Homo sapiens: one gene and its partner. The protein of the gene in region 1 interacts with the protein of each later gene in a pairwise test. Each region holds a gene or a part of one and is shown on either strand. Other genes may lie near its edges.

Region 1 (12,238 bases):
TAAGGTTCTGCAGGATTGTCCTGGCAAGCGTATATCTACTTCACTGGGAGAATACTCAACTCAAGGGTGGAAGAATACTGGGCCCAGAGCCATTCTCTATTACTGGCTCACCCTTCCCCAGGTTAAAGGGTCAGACTTCTGGACCCAGAGATTCGGGGCAGACCAGTAGAGACAGTTGTTAGGGGAGAAAAGTCAGCCCACCAGGGTAGGGCAGGAAAGCTGGACCATAGTGTATGACAAAGTAGATAGATCAGTGCTTTATAATGCAAGGCCTGATTCGTTTAGCTCTGTGCCAAGTACCGAGAGCATAAAAATGATGAACCCTTAGTCACTGACAGCTCACAGTCTCGAGAAGGCAGTCCCCTAGTCAGACAATATCAGAGTATGTAAAATAGCCCCAAGTGGTTTATCCTTATAACTTTATTTTCCTGTGGCAGTGGCAAATAGCCATCCCTATCCTGAGGGCTAAATTTGTGAGATTGTATCATTAGCCAGGATTAAAGCTCTACTTATGTTTAAGGCCTGGAAAGATCCCCTATGGAGGTCTAGGAGAAACCAAGCCTCAGTATGGGTAGGCCTCTTGCCTGAACCCCTCTTGCTCTTCCTCCAGAACTGCCCAGCTCCCGTGGCTTGAGTCTCAGCAAGTGTTCAGTCTGAAGCCCTTCCTGCTGCCCACTGGCATAGAGTTGACCCCAGAAAATCCCTGGGGTTCTTCGGTGAGCTGACAGAGCCCAGTGGGCAGGCACCCAGAGCAGGAGGAGATGTAGCCAAGAACAGGATCCACACTATCCCCTGTTTGGACCCAGGCTCGCATGGCAGCAGCCATCACCCGATGTGAATGTTCTCAGCTCCTGGAGCCTACAGGAGAAAACCCAGATTCCTCAATCTGCTCATTAAGATGTGACACCCACTCACATCATCTCCTCAGCCCATTGCCTCAACAGTTCACGCTGTCAACAGTTCACGCTCCCGTGATTCCAGCTAGTTCCCTGAGCATAGGGGGCTATTTTGTGTCTACATGCCTCTGCACCCCCACCTCTAGGTCCTCTGATTGACTGATTTCTAGTCAGCCTTTAAAACTTCGCTGCCTCTTCTCCACCACCCCCAATCCCCACCCCAGAGCTGGCTGTGTTTCCTTTCTTCTCTGTTGCTGTAGTACTCTGTACATTTTATGCCTAGCACCTTCCACAATTGTGATTCTATCATTGTGTCTCCCTCACAGGAATAGGAGCTCGGTGAATTCAAGGACCATGCTTGCTTCGTTCATTGTATCTTCAGCACCTAGCACAGCACCCAGCACATAGGACATGTTTGTTGACTGAATGCGTATCTCTATCATCACACTCACTCAATGGTGTTGAGATATTTGTGTTTCCCCTTCCCTAGACAGTGAGATCCTTGAAGGCAGCTGCCTTATCTTATTCCTTTTTGTATTTCCATACCTAGCCTAATACCTAGCTTATATAAGGGAACAGAATAAATGAACAATAAAGAAAAGTCTTTACAGCCTCTAAAATGTTATTGATCATCTCCCCACATCTCCTTCATTAAAAAGATGCCTTTCCTTTTATTCTCACCTTTTTAACATAAAAATTTTCAAACATAAAGAAAATATGAAAAAATAGTACTATGAGCATTCATATACCCATCATCTAGATTTAACACAACATTTTGCCATATTTGGTGAATGGATATACAATGTATGTGTTTTCCCCGAACCATTTGAGGTATGTTTTACACAAGATTATACCTTAAATACTTCATTTTGTAACTCCTAATGACATTCCCTATAAAGCCCTAACACTATTATTGCAACTGAGAAAATTAACTATCATTCCCTAATATAATCCTGAAGATAAGCTAATAGCCAAGTTCCACATTCAAGATTCCCCAAATTGTGCCACAATTGTCTTTTACAGCTGTTTCTTTTTTCCCCTCAAACCAGAATATGGTCTGGGTTGAGGCATTTGCTTCTTATGTCTCTAGACTCTATTAATCTAGAAATTTCCACCATTTTTTTTCCCTAATGCTTTGCTATTTTGGACAGAAGAGGTCAGACATCTTGTTGAATGTCTCACATTTTGGATTAGTCTGGTAATGTTCTCATGATCTTATTTTACTTGCTCCTTTGTACCATGTGCTTCTTATAAACTGAAAGATAGGGCTAAGGTTTTGATTTGATTCTGTTTAAACCTTTTGTCAAGAATGCCTCATACTCTGTGCCTGGAACTTGATGTTCCATCACTTCAGGAGCCATCCCACCCTTAGTGATGCTAAATTTGACCATTCGATTAAGGAGATTTCTCCATCGTACAGGTTGTCTTTCCCTTTGCAGTTAACAAGTTATTTGTGGGCTTCTCATCCTGGGTTCTGTTGATGTATCACACTTATTGATTTGCATATGTAGATCCATGCATGCATCCCAGGGATAAATCTCACTTGATCTTGGTGAATGATCCTTTCAAGATGCTGTCGAATTCAGTTTGCTAATATTTTGCTGAGGATTTTTGCATCTATGTTCATCAGGGATATTGGCCCATAGTTTTCCTTGTTTGGCTTTAGTATCAGGGTTATGCTGGCCTTGTGAAATGAGTTTGGAAGCATTCCCTCCTCTTCAAAGTTTTAGAAGAGTTTGAGAAGTATTGGTATTAGTTGTTCTTTAAATGTTTAGTAGAATTCAGCAATGAAGCCATCAGGCCTTGAGCTTTTCTTTGATAGGAGATTTTTGATTCCTGATTCAATCTCCTTACTTGTTATTGGTCTGTTCAGATTTTCTGTCTCTTCATAATTCAGTCTTGGTAGGTTTCATGTTTCTAGGAATGTATGCATTTCTTCCAAGTTTTCCATTCCTCTTGCAATATTCTTTCCCCAATGACTTTTCACCTAATTATTTTAGCATCTATTGATGATCCTTACCTAAGTTGGTTATTTCACTGGGGACTGGAAATTGAGGATTTTCTAATTTTCACATTTTTTGTACACTTATTAGCCAGCATTGCTCTATTTTTTTTTAAAAAAAGCTTTGTCTCATCATCTGGATTGAACAAAAGTTTCTCCTAAAGAGGCAAAAAAATGCTTAATTATTTCCCTTTAATTACAGTTTTCAAAGAGATAATTTGATATAATAGTCACACTAAATAATTTAAATGAGGGCTCTTCCTCAAGCTTATACTCTTCCTCTCTCTCCAATTCATAGATTTGTATTTATTCACTTTTTAATAATTCATCACAGTCATTTTTGGTGCTCAAAATGTCTATATTGCAGCCAGCAGACCCCCTTGAAGCTGGCCTCCTTGTGTCTTTTTGTAACATGCCCATTAGTCTTTAAGCACTTCTTTGCTTTCTGGTACTAGTATTCCAGGCATAATTTGTACTTTTCCTACTCCAGTCATGGAATTCAGCCATTTCCACAGTAATCTCTGCTTTTTTCAAATACCAGTAAGAAAGTATTTAGAAACTAAGACCTGGAATTAGGAAAGCTAACTTCTGCCAGGGTATTGTTGCTTTCAGAGCCTTTCAGTGGACAGAACTAAGAAATATATATATATTTTTTTGTTTGTTTGTTTGTTTGTTTGTTTTGTTTTTGAGACAGGGTCTTGCTCTTGTCGCCCAGGCTGGAGTGCAATGACCTGATCTTGGCTCACTGCAACCTCCACCTCCCAGGTTCAAGCGATTCTCCTGCTTCAGCCTCCTGAGTAGCTGGGATTACAGGCGCCTGCCACTATGCCCAGCTAATTTTTGTATTTTTAATAGAGACGGGATTTCACCATGTTGGCCAGGCTGGTCTCAAACTCCTGACCTCGTGATCCACCTGCCTTGGCCTCCCAAAGTGCTGGGATTACAGGCGTCAGCCACCATGCCCGGCCAAGAAATATGTTTTTTAAAAAACACTTATATCAATAATTCCAATTCAAATTTACATTACAGGATTTTTGCTGTTTACTTCTTTTATTTATTATACTGAAAATCTTGGTTCCTAATAACATTAACATAATTACTTATTTTCTTTGTATTACAATGTGTAAAAATGATTCAAAGTTATAATATTAAATATTAATATGAACAATAAAAACCATTGAGCCACCTGCTTTTAATTTAACAACACAATCTTCTAGGTTTCTCTTTTTTTCCATGATGTTTTTGGGACATTGTACAGGCTGTCTTTTCCCTGCTTTGGATGGTGATAATGAAAGCCTCTACTTTTTTTTTTTGAGACAGAGTCCTGCTCTGTCACCCAGGGTGGAGGGCAGTGGCACCATCTTGGCTCACTGCAACCTCCGCCTCCCAGGTTCAAGTGATTCTTATGCCTCAGCCTCCCGAGTAGCTGGGATTGCAGGCACCTGCCACCATGCCCGGCTAATTTTTGTATTTTTAGTAGAGACAGGGTTTCACCATGTTGGCCAGGCTAGTCTCGAACTCCTGACCTCAAGTAATCTGGCCACCTTGGCCTCCCAAAGTGCTGGGATTACAGGCGTGAGCCACCACGCCTGGCCTCTGCTTTTTTATTAATGTCAATTTTTTTGTCAGATGTAGAACTAAGTGCCTGATATACGTAGTCTCTACTCCAAACTACGAATCATTATTTAGACCCATGGAGACATCCACTAGTTGTATATCCCTTTCCCAGGCTCAAAGGCTTATGCCAGAACAGCATGGCAGAAGACAGGGTCAGAGAGGAAGTTCATGTCTCTGTAATAAATATATAAGAACCCATGGGCCACGCAAGCATAACATGTGCCCCCTGCTAGCACCATCCAAAATATGGTTTGTAAAAGGGTGATGCCTTTAACAAAGTTGAGAACATACCTGTATATGTTTTCAATCTGTCTCAGTGAAAAATCCTTATCTTTTGAATCTGCCCTGGTGTTTTTATATTGCATTATCAATTTGCCCTTTTTGAACCATTTCACATTCATTATCTTGTTCTAGAGGTGAGTCAAAAGAAATCTCACACAGACAGGACCTGGACCCTAGTGTTTTTCATAAATGATGTTTTTGTGTTTGGTACCTTCCTTATTGGTGTCCACCATTTTCTTGGTCTTGGTGGTCAAAATACCATATTCCACCATCTGCAATGATAGACAATGAGTCTGAAAAATCATTCCTGGATTGAAAGCTGTAGTGAGGGTCTCATTATTCCACCATCTTAGTTTGGATATTCTCCTCCTATAGGGTATCATTCGATTAACTGCGCAATCAGTGTAACCAGATTCGATATTTTATGAAAAAAGTAGCCTTGGATGTTTTATGCTACAAATCCTTTTGTTTCTCTAAATCATTTACAAATATGACACACCTGTAATCCCAGCACTTTGGGAGGCCAAGGTGGGCAGATCACAAAGTTAGGAGTTTGAGACTAGCCTGGCCAATACGATGAAACACTGTCTCTACTAAAAAATACAAAAATTAGCCAGGCATGGTGGTGCGCACCTGTAGTCCCAGCTACTCAGGAGGCTGAGGCGGGAGAATCGCTTGAACCCAGGAGGCAGAGGTTGCAGTGAGCCAAGATAGTGCCACTGCACTCCAGCCTAGGCGATAGAGTGAGACAACATATTTAAAAAAAAAAAAAAATTCAGCACTGATTCATGGAACCCAATTACCTGTTTTAAAATGTACCCCTTTATTTCTACCCATTTCTCACAGGTTTATAGCTATAACAAAAGACCTCATCACTCCCAGTTTACAATGTTTTGTTAAAAAACAAAACAAAGCAAAACCTTAAGTGTAAAACTTTTTCAAGCCTCCTTGAAAGGCCACTAAGAGCATATTCATCAGAAACCATACTTCCTCCCTCAAAGGATCCTGATAGGTATGATTTGCCCTCAAAACTATTTGCTTTACATTGGTGATACTTTTTAAATTCCCATTACATGCAAGGCTCTGGGGTAATACTATAATGAAAGAAACCAGCTTGAGTTCTACTCTCAACTCAGTGTTCGGGCTGCTAATAAAATGTGCACACAAGTAGCTATAATACAAATATAGATAAGTGTTGGGAGAAGTAGAAATGATTTTTTCTTCCTAGGAGAATTGCATTTAAGATGGACCTTAATGTGTGACTAGAATTTAGACCCGAGAGAGAGGAGCAAGGCATTCAGAGACAGGAACAGCAAGCTCAAAGGCACAGAGTCCAGAAAGCTTGTGACACTTACAGATAACTATGTCTTTCTGTTTGTTTGGAGCAAAGGATCTGAAAGGAAACCGATGGAAATAAGTTTTGATGCTGGTTACAGCCAGATTCTAAATGAGTCTGAATAAGGAGCTGAAGACTTTGTTGGTTTTTTTTTTATTATGTATGTATGTATGTATGTATGTATGTATTTATTTATTTTTTGAGACAGGGTCTCACTCTGTCACTCAGGCTAGAGTGCAGTGGCGCAGTCATGGCTTACTGTAGCCTCGACCTCCTGGGCTCAAGCAATCCTCCCACCTCAGCCTCCCAAATAGCCTAGACTACAGGTGTGCACGGCCATACCTGGCTAATTTTTAAATTTTTTGTAGAGACAGGGTCTTGCTACGTTGCCCAAGCTAGTCTCGAACTCCTGGCCTCAAATGACCCTCCGGCCTTGGCCTCCCAAAGTGCTGGGATTACAGGCGTGAGCCACCGTGCCTGGTTGGGAGCCGAAGAGTTTGAATTTTATTTAACAGGAAATAGAAAAGCTTTTATTATTATTATTAAAGTAAATCAGTGACATCAAGTAAAGCAGTGACATACTCTAGCTGTTCTTCAAAACATGTAATATGGCACAGAGTGGAGGAGGCTGTAGCCTAAAATATAACATGGGAGGTGGCAGGAGGTGGGAAGACAGAACCCTAGAAAGACTCTGGTTGGGAAATATACCAAAGATGCAGGAGTAAAAAGGGCTACAAATATCTGAAAGGTAATTTAAATTCTTCCTTTAGAACAATTTCCTAGCCTTTCTGTCTGCCAGTGGAAAGTAGCAGGTATTTTATTTTTAAGGGGGAAAAAAAAGAGACAAGATTATTTTCTAAAGGAATTGAATGAGCTCACTACGGAGATCTAGGGATGCGAAAGCAGAGCTGGCAGCCGCAGAGTAAAGCCTTTGCCATTTGGGTAGAGCCCCCAGCTTAATCATTCCCTGCCTGCTCACCCTCATGTGAAGCCTGCCACTTGGCATGCCCCACCTGTGTACATAGAGCCATCTAGGAAGAAAACCAGTGGGAGTGTGCAACTGCAGAGGGAACCCATACAACCCACTAAGAAAAAGCAGCATGTACCTTTTGTCTTCACAGTGAATAGCTGTGGAGTATAACTCCCCACACCCTAAGTGTGGGCTGTGTACAGTGGCCTTCTTCCAAAGAGCACAGTATGGGAGTGGGGATAAAGGGAGTGGTTTTACAGGGGAGAAACCCGACAAACACTACCTCAGATAGGTGATCAAGGTTAGCATCCACAGTGATCATTCATGTTGATAGCATCTACCCTGATAGGATGTGCTGAGAATGGAAATTTACCTCTGTGGTCCTCCCGCCAAAAACCCATAATCCCAGTCTAATCATGACAGAGAACATCAGAAAAATCCCAGTTGAGGGACATTCCACAAAATACCTAACCAGTACTTCTTAACACTGTCAAGGTCATCAAAAACAAGGAAAACTGTCACAGCCAAGAGGAGCCTCAGGAGACATGACAGCTTAATGTGTTAATGTATTGTGGTGTCCTGGATGGGATCCTGGAACGGAAAAAGGGACAATAGGCAAAACTAAGGAAATCTGAATAAAATATGGACTTTAGGTAATAATAATATATAATGAACTAATGAACTAATTGTAATTAGTTCATTGGTTGTAACACATGTACCATACTAATGCAAGATATTTATAACAGAGCAAGCCTGGGTGTATATATATGGGAACTCTCTGTACAATTTTCACAACTTTTCTGTAAATCTAAAACTATTCTAAAATAAGTTTATTAAACCCTTTAATAAAGAAAAAATGAATTATTTCTTAGTCACTTGAAGAAAATCAGTGGCATGAAAGTTAAATGGAAGAACTGACCCCAAAGGATACAGAGGTGATGATGTTGAAACAAAAGACTCAAAAATGTATACTCCAACTAGCACCCTGAGAGTGAACTTAAGATACTGCATCCACAAAACAAGAGTAGGAAGCTCTTAGAAGGGAATTATCTAGGATCAAAAACAGTTCTTAGAAACTAAATAAATAACTACTAAAATTTAAAAATTCTGTAGGAAAGGTTAGAATATAATGTCAAAGAAATCTCTTAGTGTGTAAATTACAAAGACAAAGACAGAGCATATGAAAGAAAAAATAAACATAGAGGACCAATCCAGGTGGTCAGTCAACTAATAGGACTTTGAGACAAGAAATGTAATCTTAGCAAATGACTTAGCCCTGTAGGGAACAGTGTTTACATAGTCATAATAATAAAATACAACTGATTGACTTTCAACTTTCAGTATGTATCTATAGATAAAATATAGAATATTAGTTACCGAATGGAATGAAATATTATGAACCATGGCAAAATGAAATAAAAGTACATCTGATGCAATATGGAAGGTTGGAAATAGGTGAGATGGAAGAGAGAGTAGGACAATAGTGTGTATTAATATATCACGTAGCAAGGAATTGAAAAATACTTTTTAATGTTTATGGAATAAGAAACCACTTAAAGTATATTATTTTAAAACACAAATAGGGCCGGGCATGGTGGCTCACACCTGTAATCCCAGCACATTGGGAGGCTGAGGCAGGCAGATCACATGAGGTCAGGAGTTTGAGACCAGCCTGGCCAACATGGTGAAACTCTGTCTCTACTAAAAATACAAAAATTAGCTGGGTGGGGTGGTGTGTGCCTGTAGTCCCAGCTACTTGAGAGGTTGAGGTGGGAGAATTGCTTGAACCTGGGAGGCAGAGGTCGCAGTGAGCCGAGATCGCACCACTGCACTCCAGCCTGGGCGACAGAGTGAGACTGTCTTAAAAAAAAAAAAAGAAAAAAAGGTCGGGCGCGGTTGCTCACGCCTGTAATCCTAGCACTTTGGGAGGCCGAGGTGGGCAGATTGCCTGAGCTCAGGAGTTTGAGGCCAGCCTGGGCAACACGGTGAAACCCTGTCTCTACTAAAATACAAAAAATTAGCCGGGCGTGGCAGCGTGCGCCTGTAATCCCAGCTACTCAGGAGGCTGAGACAGAAGAATCATTTAAACCCAGGAGGCAGAGGTTGCAGTGAGCCAAGATCATGCCACTGCACTCCAGCCTGGGCGACAGAGTGAGACTCCGTCTCAAAAAAAAAAAAAAAAAAAAAAAAGACACCAAAACCATAAATAAAAGGCTAATAGAAGAACCAAAACTAAAAGAAAATTTGAAGAAGGGGTTATTTAGGGACATAAGTCATAAGTGACCCCAAATACTCATTTTATGTAGTAAGACATGAATAGAGAATGACTACGGTTGGCAAGTGAGAAATAGAGCTATAAGCATATTTTATAGAGCTATGAGATAACTCTCCTAAGAATTAAATGGCTGAAGAGAAGTTACCTCTAGGGAGGAAAGGTGGAATGGGGAATTGTTGATTTCTTTATAAGTTCCCTACTATTTTATTCTAGTTTTTGCTATGTTTATCTATTACTTTAATTTTTTGGAAAAATGTTTTGATGAGCTATTAATAAGTATCCAAGGGAGAAATAATGAGGATGGTTGGAATGGCAAAGAGAGAACAGATGGGAGACCCTGCAAAATGAAATAAGCACTTTATAATTGACTAAATGTGGGGGCAAAAGAGAGAGTGAAAGGACACATCCTAGGTCTTGAGCTTAAGTACATAGAAGAGTGAATAGGGAAAGTAGTTGGGGGGTGGGTTGGAAGGGAAGATAAATGATTGTCACAGGATGGTTGTAATCGGCAATAAGTTGACAATATTCAGGTTTAAAGGATATAAAATTAATATTCATAAAAGATATGGTATCTTTTCCCATTTGAAGGCTATTTCACAAACAGGAAACAATGCAGCCTGCTCCTGGATATAACATAGGCTTTTCAACTCCCCCAAGATCCCCCTTTGGAGATGCATAGTTGCTGCTGACAGCACTCATGCAGAGGGTGGAGTCCTCCAAGCACAAGAAGCTCACCTCTGCACTCGTATAGGGGTTTATATCACCTCCACAGTATCATCCACCTGTTCTGGAATCTCTGGCTATCTGCCTGTCTGCTCAGTGGGTGCAAATAATTGATGCAGAGTCACCCCCAATACATTATGGATAGTCTACTGTGAGACTGTGTGAAAGGAAGGTCAGCTTCCCAGATAGAATGCCTATTGATGGGCCCAGGCTTCAGTCCTGCCTGAGGTCAGGTTCTGCAGAAGGTGAGAAGTTAGATTGTGGACATATTTAATCTGATGCTACATCAGATTGTCCTAGTGGAAATGTCTGGCATGCAGTTAGGAATTGAGGACTGCAGCTCAGGAAGGAGAGGAAGGTGTGGGGCGGTGGACAGGCTGGGGGGTAGATTTGAATTTGATGAGCTTATAGGAGCTGAAGTGTAGAGGTTGCTAGGGGATAAAGTGTCAGGGATAGATTATTGGGTAACACCTACACTTAGAAATGAGGAGAGAGGCCAGGCATGGTGGCTCATACCTGTAATCCCAACAGTTTGGGAGGCTGACGTGGGTGGATCACTTGAGCCCAGGGTTTCAAGACCAGTCTGAGCAACAAGGCAAAACCCCATCTCTACAAAAAAAACAGAAAAATTAGCCAGGCATGATGGCACATTCCTATAGCCCCAGCTACTTGGGAGGCTGAGATGGGAGGATTGCTTGAGCTTGGGAGGCTGAGGCTGCAGTGAGCTGTGTTCATGCCACTGCATTCCAACTTGAGGCAACAGAGCAAGATCCAGTCTCAAAAAGAGAAAAGAAAAGAAATGGAGAGAGAAAGAGGAGACATAAAATGGGGAGAAGAATCAGAAAAGAGTAAGTCACATAAGCCCAGGGGGGAGAGTATCAAGAAGAAGGTGGTCAATAGTGTCAGATCCTGCATCAGGGGCAAGAAGACTGTGTGAGGCCATTCTTGCATTGCTGTAAAGAAATATCTGAGACTGGGTAATTTATAAGAAAAGAGGCTTGATTGGCTCTTGGCTCTGCAGGCTGTATAGGAAGCATGGCACTAGCATCCACTTCTGGGGAGGCCTCAGGAAGCTTACAATTGTGGTGGAAGGTGAAGGGAGAACAGACACATCACATCACAGAAACAGGAGCAAGAGAGAGAGTTGGTGATGGTGGGGGTGGGAGGGAGTACCACATACTTTTAAATGACCAGGTCTTATGAGAACTCACTATCAAGAGGGCAGCACCAAGGGAGTGGTGCTATACCATTCATGAGAAACGACCCCATGATTCAATCACCTCCCACCAGGCCCCACCTCCAACACTGGGGATTACAATTCAACGTGAGATCTGCCTAAGACATACATTCAAACTATATCAAGGACCAAGATGGAGAAGAGACACCTGGATATGGCTACAAGTTCTTTGATGGATGTCTAGAGACACAGAACAAGCTGGAGCGAAGGTTAGGAAAAGGGAGAAGGAGTTGCCCAACGGAGGTCTAGAGAAGCTTGATTGGATGAACTCTATCCTCTCCATCCAGTCTGAGATAGAATCATCTGCAGGCAGTAAAGCAGACATGGCCGACCTTGGGAAGATTGGGAAGCTCTGGAATAAGCATTAGAGAGATTGAGAAATTATACTGCCCGGCCGGGCGCGGTGGCTCACGCCTGTAATCCCAGCACTTTGGGAGGCCGAGGTGGGCGGATCACGAGGTCAGGAGATCGAGACCATCTTGGCTAACACGGTGAAACCCTGTATCTACTAAAAATACAAAAAATTAGCCGGGCGCGGTGGCGGGCGCCTGTAATCCCAGCTACTCGGGAGGCTGAGGCAGGAGAATGGCATGAACCCAGGAGGCGGAGCTTGCAGTGAGCCGAGACAGTGCCACTGCAGACCAGCCTGGGCGAAAGAGCGAGACTCTGTCTCTTAAAAAAAAAAAAAAAAAGAGAGAAAAGAGAAATTATACTGCCTTCCTTCTATTATGCTTTATTTGTTTATGAGTTTACCTTTTGTAATAGCATCTATTGCTCTAGTTTGGGAGTAGGACTAACTTGTCCTGGGAGTAGGACCCCACAGGGGTCCCTTTCGTAGTGCAGTCACTTCTGAGATACTAGCTATTTGTAGTAAGTTAGACCATTTGCCAATACCCCTGA
Region 2 (12,238 bases), on another chromosome or scaffold:
ATTATTATCTTGCTGAAAAGACAGGGGACAGCACTTGATACTGCTAATTCTAGATTTAAAATTCCTTGGGGCAGTGACTGGGTTTAATTGCTACTGAATGCTTAGCACCTAGCACGTGGTAAAAACATTTTGATGTTAAAAGTTCCCAGGATACCCTGGTAGCATTGTTATTTTACAGATACAGCTAATTTGTTATGCATAACTTTAAAGATGCTAAAGAATTCCTTTATGATTTTCCCCACTTAATCAGGTTTTCAAGCTAGAAATGCCCTTCTTCAGTCAAATCTTTCTCAAACTCAGCTGGCTACTATTTGGTAAGTTTGTCCCTTAATTACATTTGATTAATTTAACTATGCATTAATTAATTAAACTCTCTCTCCCCTATTACAAGAAAGATACTGTTTCTGTAAAAGTTTGTGACTCAGAGATGCTCTATAAAAGCAGCCATTTGAAAGTTAGTATTAAGCTTGGAGGCAAATGTAATTGTGCAGAATGTTGTTGTACCCTTAAGCTACACCAAATTTACAAAAAATATTTTCTTCAACAATAGATTAATCTTGGCATACAATAACTTTTTAACTTTGTAAACCTTTTAATTTTTTAAAACTTTTTGACTCTTGTAATAACACTTAGCTTAAAACACAAACACATTGTACAGAAAGATATTTATATCCTATTCTTTAAGCTCTTTCTTGTTTTTAAAATTTATTTTTACTATTTAAACTTTCGGTAAAAACTGAGACACAAAGACACCCATTAGCTTAGGCCTGTAGAGGGTCAAGATCATCAGTATCACTATCTTCTACCTCCACATCTTGTCTCACTGGAAGGTGTTCGGGGCAATAACACGCATGGAGCCATTGTCTCCTATGATAACAATGCCTTCTGGAATTTCTCCTGACTGACCTGCCTGAGGCTGTCTTACAGTTAACTTTTTTTTTTCTGTAAGTAGAAGGAGTATACTCTAAAATAACAATAAAAATAAAGTATAGTAAATACATAATCCAGTAATATATTAACAGATGTTTATTGTTATTGAGTGTATGTACTGTAGATAATTGTATATGCTGTACTTTTCTACAGCTGGCAGTGCAGTATGTTTGTTCAGACTAGCATCACCACAGACACATAGGTAATGCGTTGCTTTATGACAGCTACAGTGTCCTTAGGTGGTAGGAATTTTTCAGCTCCATTATAATCTTATGGGACCACCATTATAAATGCAGTCCATTGTTGACTGATATGTCATTATGCAGTTCATGACTATATTTTACTAGAAAAACTGTTGTTTTCTTTCATCTAATCCCTTCTATGGAGAATCAGAGAATATCTTGTTTTTAATATAGGTAAATGTGATTTGGTAGGTGAATTAACCATGGAGTAAGACAAGCCACTTTCTCAGAAGGGGTAGTTACTTCTCTTTCTGTTTCAAAGTTTCTTCCCTCTCTTTTATGTCTTGAAAATCAACGGTAAAAAATTAATTCACTATTGAAGTACATACTTACATACTTACATTCAATAGTGAGTTACGTAAATGTACGTATTTACATTTCACTAAAATAAGTGTACCCAGCAGTTTTACCATCATTATCCTTCTTTTAAAAATAAAAAATTGGCCGGGCCCAGGTGGCTCACGCCTGTAATCTCAGCACTTTGGGAGGCTGAGGCGGGCGGATCACGAGGTCAGGAGATCGAGACCATCCTGGCTAACACGGTGAAACCCCGTCTCTACTAAAAATACAAAAAATTAGCCAGGCGTGGTGGCGGGCGCCTGTAGTCCCAGCTACTCGGGAGACTGAGGCAGGAGAATGGCGTGAACCCGGGAGGCGGAGCTTGCAGTGAGCTGAGATCGCGCCACTGCACTCCAGGTTGAGCGACAGAGCTAGACTCCATCTCAAATAAATAAATAAATAAATAAATAAATAAAAGTAAAATAAAAATTGAACTTTTAAGGCAATATTTTACTCCAAATAGACTTTATTAAGTTGTGAATTTTAACATTTTCTTTAGGACTCTGGCTGACGTTGATGGTGATGGACAGCTAAAAGCAGAAGAGTTTATTCTTGCAATGCACCTTACTGACATGGCCAAAGCTGGACAGCCATTACCACTGACTTTACCTCCTGAGCTTGTTCCTCCATCTTTCAGGTGAGTGTGCCTGGAGGTGGAGAACTATGGTTTTGATAACTTGGCAGATGTGATTTAGAAGAGAGTTAAATATTTGCACTGCCATTGATTTTAGTATTCAACAAGTTATACTTGAAAAGGGTACATATTAGAAGTAGGTGTGGGCCAGGCGTGGCAGCTTACGCCTGTAATCATAACACTGGGAGCCAAGGTGGGAGGATCACATGAGGCCGGGAGTTCAGGACCAGCGTGGACAACATAGTGAGACCCCGTATCTACAAAAATAAAAATAATTAGCCAGGTGTGGTGGTGTGCGCCTGTAGTCCTAGGTACTCTGGAAGCTGGGGCAGGAGGATCACTGGAGCATAGAAGTTCAAGGCTACAGTAAGTTGTGATTATGCCACAGCACTCTAGCCTGGGCAGCAGAGCAAGACCCTGCCTCAAAAAAAAAAAAAAAAAGAAGTGGATGTGTTTTCATTATGTTATACATAAGGAGGCTAATGACTAAAGAGATAAAGAAAAACTTGCCCAAGAACCAAAATTAGCTGAACTGTGATTTGAATCCAGATTTCTCTGTCTTGAATATCCATATACTACTGTATTTTGTAACGACATACCAAACTGTTTTAAATATCTTTAATACTGTATTCCCAATATCAAATTGCCATAATCACTGGTAGTCTGTGTAATCTAGTCTGAAAATGTCCAGACTACATGATGCTAACTTTGTTGTTTGATTTTTTTAGAGGAGGAAAGCAAATTGATTCCATTAATGGAACTCTGCCTTCATATCAGAAAATGCAAGAAGAGGAGCCTCAGAAGAAATTACCAGGTATCACTGAGTGTCAAAGTTGTATATTTATACTGAGTTCTTTTAAATTCTACCTTTAAATGTAATGGAATATTTAGAATTTTTATATTTTTAATATTTGATGTGCTATATGAGAAAAAACTATTTGATAGATGGGATGTATTTTGGTATTGATAAAATTAAGATGGTCAAAATGAGAAGAGTGTGAAGGAAGAAGAGACAGTTAGATGTATTTGACAGGATTATAGACATCTGAGTTAAAGTATTTCTCCTAATTTAGGCTGAGTTATTAGAGGAAACTTTGTAATGAAATCTTTACCTTTAAAAACATTTAAATATTGGTTGAAAGAATACATTTGTAGCTGTTTTAATATATTAGGATGTTAATGACATCAAAACAAATGTATAACCACACAGCTTTGATTGTCCTTGAAGAAGAGAAAAAAGTTGAAAAAGTTTTTTTTTTTTTTCCTTGTTGCCCAGGCTGGAGTGCAACAGCACAATCCCGGCTCACTGCAACTTCCGCCTCCTGGGTTCAAGCGATTCTCCTGTCTCAGCCTCCTGAGTAGCTGGGATTACAGGTGCCTGCCACTATGCCTGGCTAATTTTTGGTATTTTTAGTAGAGATGGGGTTTCACCGTGTTGGCCAGGCCGGTCTTGAACTGCTGACCTCAGGTGATCCGCCCACCTTGGCCTCCCAAAGTGTTGGGATTACAGGCATGAGCCACCACACCCAACCGAAAAAGTATTTTTATTGGCAAGTTTATAAAAATTATTTCTCTCTTGATTGGATTCAAACTTAAAAATTTGTTTTTCTAAAATTGAATATCCTTGAAGAAAGTAGATATTTTTCCACTTAGATTTGAGTTAAAATTATCCTTAGGAGAAGTATTCAAATACTGATAGCACTCAAATGATCACAAGGCATAAGTATATAGAAACTAGATTACAGGTTCTGTAGGCTGTTAATGTGTGTGGATGCTGATAGGCATACCTTGTTCAGTTACTTTTGAGGACAAACGGAAAGCCAACTATGAGCGAGGGAACATGGAGCTGGAAAAGCGACGCCAAGCCTTGATGGAGCAGCAACAAAGGGAGGCAGAACGTAAAGCCCAGAAAGAAAAGGAAGAGTGGGAACGAAAACAGAGAGAATTACAAGAACAAGAATGGAAGAAACAACTTGAATTAGAAAAACGCTTAGAGAAGCAACGGGAATTGGAGAGACAACGAGAGGAAGAAAGGAGAAAAGACATAGAAAGACGAGAGGTTATTTTTAAGTTTTTTACTTCTTAAGAAAATCATTACATTTAATAAGTGACTATATTTCATTTGATTAAAAAATGCTTATTTTTGAATTTTTGTTTTGCCTTTTGCTCTGCATCATTTCATTCTTACCCTATACAAATCTGATCATTCCTTCCCTTGAGGAGGGAAAGAGGCTTCTTGCTTATAAGGAGTTTTCAGAACTGGTACGTGGTAGAGAAAGCATCCTCTGCAGGTGATATCTCAATCAAAGGAGGATCGACTGCAGAGCTAAGTTGAGTGAGGAGCTAAGGTTAGTTAGGCAACTGAGCAAGTCATTAGACGAAAGCAAGTTTAAGATCCAGATTAAGAGTCCAAGGAATTGGAGAGACAGAAAGATGAGAGCTGGGCATTGAAAGTCTCTCTAGAGAGGAATCAAGAGGATGGGCTTGCACAGGCCTTTGGGATAGTGTTGCTGGGAAAGAAGGGTCCTTAGGAGGACTGGCTGTGTTTTAAAGGGCCAGGGATGGAGCACAGGAAGTTATTGCACACTGAAATAATATAAATAGAATTTTTCCCCCAGATACCAGAATAGAGGGAAAATTATTCCTGTTAACATTTATATTTATGAAGTCATTCTGTAACTTATTAAGAGAAAAATGACTGTAACAAAAGGATGGTCTTCCAACCTGGGCAACATGGTGAAACCCTCTCTCTACAAAAAGTACAAAAATTAGCCAGGTGTGTGGTGGTGTGTGCCTGTAATCCCAGCTACTTGGTGGGGCTGAGGCAGGAGAATCGCTTGAGCCCAGGTGGTGGAGGTTGCAGTGAGCCAAGGTGGTGCCACTGCACTCCAGCCTGGGTGACAGAGCAAGATGCTGTCTGGAAAAAAAAAAAAAAAAAAAAGATCTCGTGAAGAAATGAGAAAATATGATAGATGAAGCCACTTTCTTGGAAGTCTTTAAGCCCATTAATAAAACTAGATTTGCCTAGCTACCCTTAGGCACTAAAGCCACTAAGTGCTAAACTCTGCCTGACTTTTATTGTTGTCTTCCCAGTTTTTGAATCGTGCAAAATTTTTGATTTAAAAATTAAGTATAATTCCTTTTTTTTTTCAGGCAGCAAAACAGGAACTTGAACGACAACGTCGCTTAGAATGGGAGAGAATTCGGCGACAGGAGCTTCTCAATCAAAAGAATAGAGAACAAGAAGAAATTGTCAGGTTAAACTCTAAAAAGAAGAATCTTCATCTTGAGTTGGAAGCACTGGTATGGCTGAAGTTTAAGTGAAATTTATCTGAATGATGATGGAGCTACCTGTTGAAAAATGTAATTGTGGGCCAGGCGTGGTGGCTCACACCTGTTATCCTAGCACTTTGGGAGGCCAAGGCAGGCAGATCAACTGGGGCAGGAGTTTGAAACCAGCCTGGCCAACATGGTGAAACCCCATCTCTACTAAAAAAAAAAATTAGCCAGCTGTGGGCTGGGCATGGTGGCTCACTGTAATCCCAACGCTTTGGGAGGCTGAGGTGGGTGGATCACGAGGTCAGGAGTTCAAGACCAGCCTGGCCAATATAGTGAAACCCCATCTCTACTAAAAATACAAAAATTAGCCAGGAGTGGTGGTGTGCGCCTGTAGTCCCAGCTACTTGGGACACTGAGGCAGAAGAATTGCTTGAACCTGGGAGGCGGAGGTTGCAGTGAGCTGAGATCGCGCCACTGCACTCGAGCCTGGGCAACAGAGTGAGACTCCGTCTCAAACAAACAAACAAAAATTAGCTGGCCGTGGTGGGTGGTGGTGGGTGCCTGTAATCCTAGCTACTTGGGAGGCTGAGGCAGGAGAATCACTTGAACCCAGGAGGTGGAGGTTGCAGTGAGCCAAGATCGCACCACTGCACTCCAGCCTAGGTAACAGAGTGAGACGCCATCTCAAAAAAAAAAAAAAGAAAAATGTAATTGTGTTTTAAAATCTCTCGTGAATTAGTTATGTCTTAATGTCATTAGTCACATTTTCATATAAACAGACTGTACAATATGGTTTACTGAGAAAAGGATAATGACTCAAAATGCTGAGAATTATGTTGTAGCATCAGTTCAGACACTGATGAACCATGTACTCCTGGGCAAGACATTTCCCTTCTCTGTGCCTCACTTTTCCCTTGTCTGAAATAAAGAGTTGTGTTAGTTGAGTGATTTTCAGTTTTCAGATTGGTCTCTGTAAGATGGTCTGAGGAGGACTAAGCAGAGGCAGGAGAGGGGAAGCTCGGGCAGCAGAACAGTGATTTTCTCTCCCTAATTCTTCCCACGCTTCACAACAGAGAAGCTTGACATTTATGTGCTTTATGTTTCTTGGGGTTTCACTCAAGATTTGCTTGGAAAAAAAAAGATTCTACTATTAAAAAGACAACTGATTTGAAACTGCTGACCTAAATGATCTCTTACAGTTCCAGTTCTGCAGGATTGTAGTTCTTAGCTAATACTGGCCACTAAGCAGTTTTTACCAATCAGATGTTAGAGGGTCAAGTTGTTAAAAGACTTTGTTTGAAATGTGTGGTGAGAAGGTATAAAAGATCTGGCACTATTCTGCCACAACCCTAGAATCCCATGAGCCTACCCTGATCATATAGTAGGGTTTTACAAAAATGCATACCTAGTCATGTAGTAGAGCCAGATTTAGATCTTGTGTGATCATAGTCTAACATTTTATTTGGTTGATGACTTGAATTACATTAAAAATTATTTTTTTAATCATCACAATATCTTTAGTCAGAAATATATTATTTTATTCCTTCAAATGGATAGACATACATACCACAAGTATTAATCATGCCAGAGTACTACAAAACAGTTGTAAAAAACTTTTAACTCTCTTGCACTATTTTTATATATATATATCATCTTGACTATATATAATGGGAAGAGACCTTAAGATTGATTGTTTTTCCCTCAAGAACTGGTGCAACACATGAAGCACAGTAACACAGGTGAATGTGCAGAGTCTGGAAAGGTCCAGAGCCTATACGTATCCCATGTTGAGGATAAGAATGTGAGCTCCAGCAGAGATACACATGTTCCTTTCAGTGTATGTATTTCAAATATGAAACAGTCTTCAGTAAAACTTTTCATCATCAGTAAGTTTTAACCCAGGATGTCATTTCCCCTCACTCCACTGTATTAGTTTGGTAGGGCTGCTGTAACAAAATACGATAGGCTAGGTGGCTTAAACAACAGAAATTAATTTTTTCACAGCTCCTAAGATCTAAGACCAAGGTTAGTTAGGCTTAGTTTCTTGTGAGGCCTCTTTTGGTGGCTTGCAGGTGGCCATCTTTCATTGTGTCCTTATATGGTGTTTTCTCTGAGTGTATTTTATCTCTGGTGCCTTTTGTGTTCAGATTTCCACCTCTAATAAGGACACCAGTTAGATTGGATTAGGGTCCACCTGTATGACTTTGTTTAACCTTAATCACCTCTTTAAAGGCCCTGTCTCCAAATATTGTCACATTCTGAGGTACTGGGGCTTGGGACTTTAACATATGAATTTTGGGGGACACAGTTCAGCCCATAACCCCCCATGTCACCCTTCTTCTTAGGTCCCATTGAGAATCTCTGCTATTTGTTTGATTTCTTCACAGAAGAAGAGGAAAAAAGGAGAAGAATATTAGTATAGAACAGAACTGTTGCCAAAACGTTCCTCCTGGGCACTGTTTTAATTAGAGGAAATTAGATGGCCATATTTAGGGTAGAAATAGAAGTTCAGAGAAGGTAATGCCGAGCATCACATGCAAACATTTATTCCTCTTCATCATTCTTTGAGAGTGTCTCTGATATTAATATTGTTAATTAATATTGTCTAATGCTGAATTCAGAAAAAAATTCAATGTGTTATGTTTCTGCTTTCCCATACTAACATATGGGCTCTTGCACTCTGAGAATGATGTGTTTCCCACTAATAACTCGAGTTAACAGACACAACTCTGAAACACATTCCACTTGGTTTTAGGCATTTGTTTCAGGATGAATATGAATGATAACTGAGATTTTAAAATTTAACTAAAAATATTATTCTCCTTGTAGAAACATTTTCTATTAGCATTTTATGTTACTATATATTTATATGATCTTCCTATAGAATGGCAAACATCAGCAGATCTCAGGCAGACTTCAGGATGTCCGACTCAAAAAGCAAACTCAAAAGACTGAGCTGGAAGTTCTGGATAAGCAGTGTGACTTGGAAATTATGGAAATCAAGCAACTTCAACAGGAACTTCAGGTAAGTCCTTCACTGCTAAATTGTTCTTAAACATGTACAATTAATAGTTCTTCTGGGCTGGGCACGGTGGCTCACGGCTGTAATGCTAGCACTTTGGGAGGCTGAGGCGGGTGGATCCCCTGAGGTCAGGAGTTCGAGACCAGCCCAGTCAGCAGGGCAAAACCCCGTCTCTACTAAAAATACAAAAAAATTAGCTGGGTATGGTGGCGCATGCCTGTAATCCCAGCAACTCGGGAGGCTGAGGCAGGAGAATCGCTTGATTCCGGGAGGCAGAGGTTGCAGTGAACCCAGATCGCACCACTGTACTCCAGCATGGATGATAGAGCGAGATTCCATCTCAAAACAAAACAAAACGAAACAGTTCTTCTAATAGAGTTTTGTTTTGGGGGTCAATAACCTTGAGTCTTTGATAGGCTTGTGATCTAAATACACGCAATCCTGTATACAATATCAGGAAGTCCATAGACCTACTAAAACTCTGCTAGACGTCTGGTTAAGTTTTGCTTAATATATATACGTAAGTGGACATTTATCACTTTGAGTTTTAACTCTTTAACAATGTTTATGCATTCTTAATTCATTACTTGCTATAACAAACGACCTTAGACTGGGTAATTTATAAACAACAGAAATTTATTACTCATAGTTCTAGAGACTGAGAAGTCCAAGATCAAGGTGTTAGCAGATTCAGTGTCCGATGAGGGCTTGCTGTCTCCTTTAAAACTAGTGCCTTCTTGCTGCGTCTTCACATGCAGAAAGGGTAAGGCAGTCCCTTCAACTTCCTTTATAAGGACAGTCATCTCATTCATGAGTGTGGAGCCTCCTAAAGCCCTACTTCTTAATAGTACTGCATTGGGAGTTAGGTTCCAACATATGAATGTTGGGGACATACCAACATTCAGACCATATCATACATTAAAATAAGGTTATTGCTACTAATTTTAGGAAATTTTGACTTAAAGTTATTCTTTTTAAAATTATGATGAGAACTTGAATATGTCCCTTGGGGTCCTGGTAATTCTCTTCCTTACTTGTGCAGTAGGGTCTGGTTCAATAATTACTATTTGCAGAATGGGGCTGTGGAAGCATTCTGCATCTCTAGAGTTCTCTTACCCAATTTCTCTTACTGCATGGACTGGCAATTAATCAGTCTTTTTGCTTTGTTACAGGAGAGATAAACAAAAGCCAAAAATATTTTCTGTCTGATTTAAACCTGCTTTCCTAGTTTTTAGTCCTTTTTATTTTTTCCTCCCTCTGTCACCCAGGCTGGAGTGCAGTGGCATGACCTCAGCTCACTGCAACTTCTGCCTCCCAGGCTCAAGCAATTCTCCTGCTTCAGCCTTCTGAGTAGCTGGGATTACAGGCACCCACCACCACGCCTGGCTAATTTTTGTGTTTTTCGTGGAGACGGGGTTTCACCATGTTGACCAGGCTGGTCTTGAACTCCTGACCTCAAGTGATCCACCTGCCTTGGCCTCCCAAAGTGCTGAGATTACAGGTGTGAGCCACCGCACCCAGCTTTTAGTCCCTCTTTGATATACACATATTCATCCTGAAGTATCATGGCATGCTTACACATACCATCTAGCGCAGGTCTGCTGTCATTCATCAGTAAGCTGAAAATTGTAGGCTTCTAGACACACCCCATTTACAAAGGCTTTCTTCACTGCCTTTTAATTTCAGCCAGTCACTCAAAATTGATTTTGGCTTAAATATTTCTTGGCATAATTCCATTCTAGTTGATTCATAAGTTGTAAGCAGTTTACAACTATGTATTATTTCTAAAATAAGTTTCAAAGATGAGTAAATCCTGTTTTAAAGTTTTCAAAAAAAACTCTTGGACAATATTATAACATTGTAATCAGGTACTATTTTTTCTTTTTATAAGGAATATCAGAATAAGCTTATCTATCTGGTACCTGAGAAGCAATTATTAAATGAAAGAATTAAAAACATGCAGTTCAGTAACACACCTGGTAAGTCTCTAAGGTTTGTCTGATTACTTTTATCCTTTTCTGAATGACTGTATCAGTCACATTGTTACTTTTTTAAAATTAAAAAAAGTATTCTGTTATAAATAACACTTTTTGCCTGTAAGTTTAAAGTTTCAAAATAAAGTGAAAAATATCCCAGATGTTAGAGCATTTTTAGTGATAAAAAGTAGATAAAAATAAAATAGTAATGATTGTGGTATGACTTCATATCTTGATGATATTTTTATGTATATAATTGAAACATCAAATAAAGTGTTAGACTATAAGATATAAATTTGGCTCTAACACAAGACTACATGTGCATTTTGAAAAGTCCTGCACTGATTTTAAAGAACTGTTCAGGAGGAGGCTTTATGGTGGGGCCGCACCTGGGATTCTAGGGTGTTAGCGTGCAGCAGTCATAGGCTTAAGCAGGATGGTATGCTCTGCCCAGACCCTTTATATTATCTAACTCTGTGCTTCATACAAAGAATTTTACCATCTTGGCCCTCTGACACCTGTGGAACAAAACATTCCAGGATAATTTATGGGATAGTAACTGTTTTTGTTTTTGCTCAGGTCCCAATGAGAAAACTGAAAAAAATTCTCTGTATTGGATACTATACCAATAAAAGCATAGCAGAAACAAGGTTTATTTAAAGAAAAGTAAATCTGCAGATGTTGTGTTACAACTGACTAAAGTATCCTAAAATGTCACTCATTGAGTCTCTATCAAGTCAATTATTCCATTGTAGGTCTCTTTATTATAGTTTTGGCTGTTTACAAAGTTCAATAAATAGTATCCCCTTCTTTGCGCAAGTTCTGAACAAATTAAGAAATAAGGCAAAGGAGCAAGACAAATGAGAAACCAAATCACTGCCTCATTATTGATGAAGCTGATTCTAGGCAGTGTGGTTTATCTGTGGGTGGTATAGTTGCACCTATAAAGCACTGGATGCATGAACAAAGTAGAATGCAGGTTTCCTGTGGGCAGTTAAGTCTCTAGAGAGTGAGGGCTTAGGAGGAGCCTAGGCTGTACATTCCTAGGTCTTTAACTTGAGCTCACTAGTTAGTGAAAGGAAGGAAAGAAGCTGGGATTGTTGGGCTAGTGCAGGGCCCTTCACGTGGAAGAAATATCAGAAATGAAGTTCACTCTTGTGAACTATTTTTATTGTGTCTCCTGCCTTCCATTGATGTGGTCTATCCATGTCCCTGCTCAGACAGTGTTCCTTATACTTGGTTCTTTCCTGTTCAAAGTATATTAGCCCCCACCTCACCCCTACACAGGCATTCCAGAGTCAGGGTGAGCTAACCCACCTGATATGCACAGTGGCAGAAATATATCTTTATTATTGTCATCATTGTTGTCATTGTTCCTATTTGAATTGTGAATAAAATGTAGAATATGTCTTATTGAGGACGTGATGGGGCTATTCTTTCTCTGTGGAATGTAATTCAGTGCAGCTGTTACCTATTTATTTATTTAGCCATAGTCCAATTCAAAATAGGAAGCTTTTGTTTGGGCTTTGAAAAGTACCCTGTATCCCTTAGATGCCTCTCTGTATAACAATTGCCATTTAAGATTACCAGCCATGTGCCAAGCACTGTGTGAGTCAGTTTTGATGCATTCTTTCCTTTAATCTTTACAATAACCCTTTGGTATAGTTATTATTCCCATTGTGAGCTCAGGAAAACTGAGGTTCAGAGAGATTAAGTAGTTACCCAGGATGGTACAATCATAGTACTCAAATTCATGTCTAACTGTAAAGCCCACTGTACTACCATGTTGTTTCTTTGTCTTATTTTCCAGTTACCC

The links.
Region 2: the proteins of LARP6 (region 1) and ITSN2 interact in a two-hybrid assay, tested with the Homo sapiens proteins (2 studies listed by BioGRID, with this or other methods).

Annotation. Positions count from the first base shown.
Region 1 is NC_000015.10:70,840,705-70,852,942, reverse strand, and holds part of LARP6 (la-related protein 6), read left to right. Parts: intron 1-1,222; coding exon of another isoform or gene 1,223-1,304; exon of another isoform or gene 1,305-1,497; intron 1,498-12,238. UniProt on the Homo sapiens protein: Regulates the coordinated translation of type I collagen alpha-1 and alpha-2 mRNAs, CO1A1 and CO1A2. Stabilizes mRNAs through high-affinity binding of a stem-loop structure in their 5' UTR.
Region 2 is NC_000002.12:24,291,875-24,304,112, reverse strand, and holds part of ITSN2 (intersectin-2), read left to right. Parts: intron 1-250; coding exon 251-314; intron 315-2,010; coding exon 2,011-2,148; intron 2,149-2,873; coding exon 2,874-2,959; intron 2,960-3,941; coding exon 3,942-4,204; intron 4,205-5,298; coding exon 5,299-5,448; intron 5,449-8,308; coding exon 8,309-8,449; intron 8,450-10,337; coding exon 10,338-10,425; intron 10,426-12,238.